2 separate regions of the Homo sapiens genome follow, and region 1 is linked to region 2. Evidence: fine-mapped expression QTL. A gene starts in region 2. The other region holds a variant in brackets. All regions are shown on one strand. Distances are between the middles of the regions.

The links. PIP is the estimated chance that this variant, and not a neighbour inherited with it, causes the effect. A credible set is the group of variants that fine-mapping cannot tell apart.
Region 1: its variant is the best candidate, but not a certain one, in a credible set for the expression of ADAT1 in esophagus mucosa (GTEx, PIP 0.59).

What each region holds. Positions count from the first base shown.
Region 1 is chr16:75,511,415-75,514,324 of GRCh38, reverse strand. No RefSeq gene overlaps it. Among named protein-coding and RNA genes, the nearest start is that of CHST6, 17 kb to the right of the region's middle. The variant G/A (reference allele first, on the strand shown) is at 1,453.
Region 2 is chr16:75,622,047-75,624,956 of GRCh38, reverse strand. ADAT1 (adenosine deaminase tRNA specific 1) reads left to right here and starts at 1,676. Exons shown (of 10, transcript NM_001324445.2): 1 at 1,676-2,554. RefSeq lists enhancers at 1,363-1,882, 1,762-2,001, 1,883-2,402, 2,403-2,910.

The DNA.
Region 1 (2,910 bases), 110 kb after region 2:
TTCCTGAAGCATAGTTAATATTTTGGCCCCACAGAAAAGGTTATTTGCAGTTTATGCCAACTTGTTATTGCAAAATCATTGCTCTGAAATATTCATTTCTACCAGGAAGCTTTGGATTGATTTTTTTTACCCGCAATATCTGCCCAACCCTCCTTATTCCAGTTGTTTAGATTTCTTTTGTCATTTTTAATGAATCTGAATGTCAAGGAAGGCAGATCTTTTTCTGGTATCAGGATTGATTTTATTGTGTGATAATACAGATTTCACTAAACTAAAGTCCTAGAGGGTCTTGTGATAATTAAAGTACAACCCAATAATATTTTTCTTGTGTCATTGCTGGAATCAAGACTGGGTCAGATTTGGACCACTCATTTATTCACTCAACAAACATTTACTGAGTGTCAATTGTGTGCCCCCCTTTTTTTTCTCTAGGTACCAGGTCAAGATGCCATGGTGAACAAAACAAAGCCCTTTCCCACATGGAGCTTTAATTCCAATGGAGGGAGGGAGAAAACAACCAACCTGTGGGCTGGAACAGCTGGTCGTGAGTGTCAGGGTGAGGGCAGAAAGTGGTAGGGCCTGTGTAGCTGGGGTGGAGTGCCATTTGTCGTTGGGTGATGGGGAGACCCTCGATGGTGATGATATTGGAGTCAAAATCCGAAGGAAGTGAGGAATGAGCCAACAGCTCTTGGGGTAAGAGCAAGTGTTCCAGTCCAGGGAGCAGCCGATTCAGAGGCCCTGAAACAGGAGCTTACAGAAGAAACATTGAGGGGGCCAGGGTGCCTGGAGGGACTATGTGGGCAAGGGGGAGAGGAGGAGGGGAGGGCAGGTCCTGGAGGGCTCTACTGGGGGGTTTTGAGCAGAGATGAGATGATTCTGACTTTTATTTTTATTTATTTATTTATTTTTTTGAGATGGAGTCTTACTCTGTCGCCCAGGCTAGAGTGCAGTGGCGCGATCTCGGCTCACTGCAAGTTCTGCCTCCCGGGTTCACACCATTCTCCTGCCTCAGCCTCCTGAGTAGCTGGGACTACAGGCGCCCACCACCACGCCCGCCTAATTTTTTGTATTTTTATTAGAGATGGGGTTTCACGGTGTTAGCCAGGATGGTCTCAATCTCCTGACCTCATGATCCGCCAGTCTCGGCCTCCCAAAGTCCTGGGATTACAGGTGTGAGCCACTGCGCCTGGCCTTTTTTTTTTTTTTTTTTGAGATGGAGTCTCACTCTGTCACCCAGGCCGGAGTGCAGTGGCAGGATCTCAGCTCACTGCAGCCTCCGCCTCCTGGGTTCCAGCAATTCTCTGCCTCAGCCTCCCGAGTAGCTGGGATTATAGGCACCCACCACCACACCCGGGTAATTTTTGTATTATTAGTAGAGACAGGGTTTCACCATCTTGGCCAGGCTGGTCTTGAACTCCTGACCTCATGATCCACCCACCTTGGCCTCCCAAA[G/A]TGCTGGGATTACAGATGTGGGCCACCATGCCCGGCCAATCCTGACTTTTTTTAAAGTACACAGTCCAGTGGTTTTTAGTGTGTTCAGAGAGTTGTATAACTGTTGCCACAATCAATTTGAGAATATTTGCATCATCCCGAGAAGAAATCCCTTACCCAGTGGCATTGACTTACTGGCTTTGCGTGGAGAATAGATGGAAAGCCTGATCAGGACAAAGTCTGCTCAGGCTAGGATCCAGAGACCACTGAGGTAAGGCAGGCCAGGGGCACACCCACGAACCAGGGAGGAGCAGGCAGGCAGTATCCGAGAGAGGTGGTTGACTACAGTTGGTAGTTCAGTGGGCATGTCCTCTTGTTAGAGAGGAGTGGAGGGGACAGTTGGACCTCCAGGCAGGGAGGTGGGGTTTGGCAAGAGAGGAGTCTCCCATTGGACAATGGGTAGAGTTGCAGGCTGATGGGCAATGATTAGTATCAAGGCAGCTCAGCACGGAGTTGAAGGACCACATAAGACTCTTAATCCCCAGGAGGACCCATGTGGTCTGCCTAGAACCCCAGCTTCAGAGGAACTGGCTGTGTTGACCCAGTCATTCACTGGAACACAAGATGAAAGTGGGGCCAGCTGGAAGGAGGGCTGAGTGCTGAGCCTCATGCTGCCCACTTGGCTCAGTTTCTTTGCATTGCTGCCATTTGGGGCCAGGGTGGTCTTGAGGCCTTGGTTGGGAGTTAGGTGACTCTGCTGTGGAGGTTAGAGGCTAGGGAGCCAGCCATTACAGACCGCTTGTGTTTATGTTCTCTATATCTGTTCTCTTTCACTGCAATATCTCTCTGAAAATACATCCTTAAAGAAATAAGCTCTTTGAGAGCAGGCATCTTAGACTTTTTTCACCAATGTTGCCAGCATATAGAACGAACTCTGTAAATATTCACAGATGGACTGGGCACAGTGGCTCACGCCTGTAATGCCAGCACTTTGGGAGGGTTAGGTGGGCAGATCACCTGAGGTCAGGAGTTCGAGACCAGCCTGGCCAACATGGCAAAACCCCATTGCTACTAAAAATGCAAAAAAAATTAGCTTGGCGTAGTGGCTTGTGCCTGTAATCCCAGCTACTCAGGAGGCTGAGACACGAGAATCTCTTGCACCCAGGAGGCGGAGGTTGCAGTGAGCTGAGATCGTGCCACTGCACTCCAGCCTGGGTGACAGAGTGAGACTCATAAATAAATAAATAAATATTCATGGATGAATGAATAAATTCTTAATGTTTGTATAAGTTTGCTATTGTTACTGTAATCAATTCCCCAAATTGAGCTACTTAAAACTATATTGATTTTATCATCTTATAGTTCTTACTTCTGGTGGTCAAAAGTCCAAATTGGATGTCTCTGGGCTAAAACCAAGGTTCAACGGGACTATGTTCCTTCTAGAGGCTCTAGGAAGAATTTGCTTCCTTGACTTTACCA
Region 2 (2,910 bases):
ATAAAGAACCCTAGAAGAAGGTCTTTGATACCCCTTACCCCCACTGGAATATTTCTTAAAAGACAGAAGAGGCAGTCACTTGCAGATTAAAGATATTGGAGAGGAATGAGGAGCAAAGTCTTTGGCCTTGGAGGAGGGCCATGTCCCATTTCCTTTGAACTAGAGAGAAGGATGGGGTTGAGCAAGTTGCATAAATTTTTGAGGGGTAACAAAGAAAAATGAATTCTTTCATTTTTAGTAATAGAGCATTCAGTTACTGGGTGACAAAGGCCCCTGAAGTATCCAGGCAGCTATATTACTTATTCCCGGCAATCCAAAGGTTTTTAGACCTGTTCTGCCCACTACACTGTAGTAGTACTGTACTACAGTAGCCAGTAGCCACATGTGACTATCCAGCATCTGAAATGTGGCTGATCCAAATTGGGATGTATTCTAAGTGTAACACACACCAGATTTCTTAAACTTCGCATTAAAAACAGAACAGAACATAAGTATTTTTTAAAATATTGAGACTCGGCAGCCAGGTGCGGTGGCTCACGCCTGTAATCCAGCACTTTGGGAGGCCGAGGCGGGCAGATCACGAGGTCAGGAGATCGAGACCATCCTGGCTAACATGGTGAAACCCCGTATCTACTAAAAATACAAAAATTAGCCTGACGTGGTGGCAGGCACCTGTAGTCCCAGCTACTCGCGAGGCTGAGGCAGGAGAATGGCGTGAACCTGGGAGGCGGAGCTTGCAGTGAGCAGAGATTGCGCCACTGCACTCCAGCCTGGGTGACAGAGCGAGACTCCGTCTCAAAAAAAAAAAAAAAAAAAAAAAAAATATATATATATATATATATGAGACAGACAGACCGACCCCGGGCATCGTGACTCACGCCTGTAATCCCAGCACTCTGGGAGGTTGAGGCGGGCGGATCACTTGAGGTCAGGAGTTCGAGACCAGCCTGGTAACATGGCGAAACCCCGTCTCTACTAAAAATAACAAAAATGAGCCGGGTGTGATGGCGGGCGCCTGTAATCCCAGCTACTTGGGAGGCTGAGGCAGGAGAATCGCTTGAAGCCAGGAGACGGAGGTTGCAGTGCGCCGAAATTGCGCCGCTTCCAGCCTGGGCGACAAAGCGAGACTCCATCTCAAAAAATTTTTTGATTATATGTTGAAATAATACTATTTGGGATGTATGGGTTAAATAAAATATATATGATTGTTTCTATTTTGACTTTTAATGAGGCTACTGGAAATTTTTAAATTACGTATATGGTTCGAATTATATATCTATTGGACAGTGATGTTACAGATAGAAATACAGCATAGTCAGGAGAATCGCTTGAACCGGGAGGCGAAGGTTGCAGTGAGCCGAGATCGCGCCTCTACACTCCAGCCTGAGCAACAGAGCAAGACTCCGTCTCAAAAAAAAAAAAGAAAAAGAAAAAAATTCAGCCGAGTGCTGCAAGATACGTCATTCTAGTTGAAGGAATATCTAAGCCAACAAGCGGCTCCCATCATCCGGTTTCACGCCTCTCTAAGACGCAGCCAGGGCTGCGGGACTTGAAGCGCGGGAATCTCGGCCCTGGCACCGACTCCCCGGAAAAACTACAGGGCCCGGCATGCACTGCGCGCCTCTGGGAGCGGGAGCCGAAAGGAACCGGCGCTTTGTGACGTCACGTCCGCCTTACCGGCGGATTAAGCTCGCTTTCTTCTAGGCGCGTTTCCTGAAGGTGGGAGGGGAGCGTCCGCGAGGCGCTGGGGCGACGGGGCAGGTTTATCCGGGCTAACTTTGCCGAGTCTGTTTTTGAGGGAAGAGGTTGTGAGGATCGTATCTTCCGGGACGCGTTTCACGTGGGAAGGCGCTCCACGCCTGGAACTGTCAGCAGCCGGCGCCTGAAGAGCTCCTGGCGCGGGGCCTCTGGCCTGGCAGCCGCAGGACCCAATGGATCAGGCGCTCACGCTGTTCTCACTGCATGGCTTCAGTGCCTTGCCTGGCACCTCCTATCCTGTAACTGGCCGACTCGGGGTCCCACCCAGGCTTCTCCAGCGGCCGGGAAGGGGCTCTGCTTCCGGAAGTGTTTAGGAAGGGAGCCAGCGTAAACCAGAGTCCCTTCCTCCAAGCATCGCTGAAGCCTTTTCTCCCCTGGCAGCCGACTTCCTTTTCTTTGGAAAGGACGTCAGTTTTTTTAGCTTGTTGAAACTGTTCAGAGATGCGGTCTTGTGGGCAAATAAATGCCTGTTTAGCTGAGCTGTTATTTTCAGCTAAGAAGTTCTTCAAGTTTTCAAGATCTAGGAGGGGGTGTAGGCTCGAATTATAATGGACCCAGTGTAGCAAAACATTTATTCATTTAAACAATTGTGCATGCTCATTCAGACGCACTACCTGAGTGAGATGATGCCGTTCTGGGCTGCTTCATCTTAAAGAGAGTCACTGTTTCTTCTGGCAACTTCTACCTGCCTTGCCTATCGAGGTTTGTGAATTGCACCTCTGGTTTAATTTCAGGTCGATGGCCAGGTGGTCTTCATAAACTATACTGCCTTGTGATGCCTCCCTAGAAATGAGAGGTGAGTCCCTTCCAAACGAGGATTCTAGGATCTCATGCTTTCTTTTCTTGACAAGGCTTGCCCTGGCCCTCTGACTTTCAAGTCACAGGGTCTCACTTCCTGCAGATTTTTGTTTTAAATCACTGTGGTCTGATTTACCAGTAGCATTCACTACAGTAGCGAGCCTGCACGTTGCGCTGCAGGGGATTCATAACAATACCATCTTTCAAAAGCTGCATGCACTGGAGCTCAGGAAAGCCTTTTTTGTTTTTTTGAGAGGGAGTCTCGCTCTGTCACCCAGCCTGGAGTGCAGTGGCACAATCTCGGCTCATTGCGACCTCCGCCTCCCGGGTTCAAGCGATTCTCCTGCCTCAGCC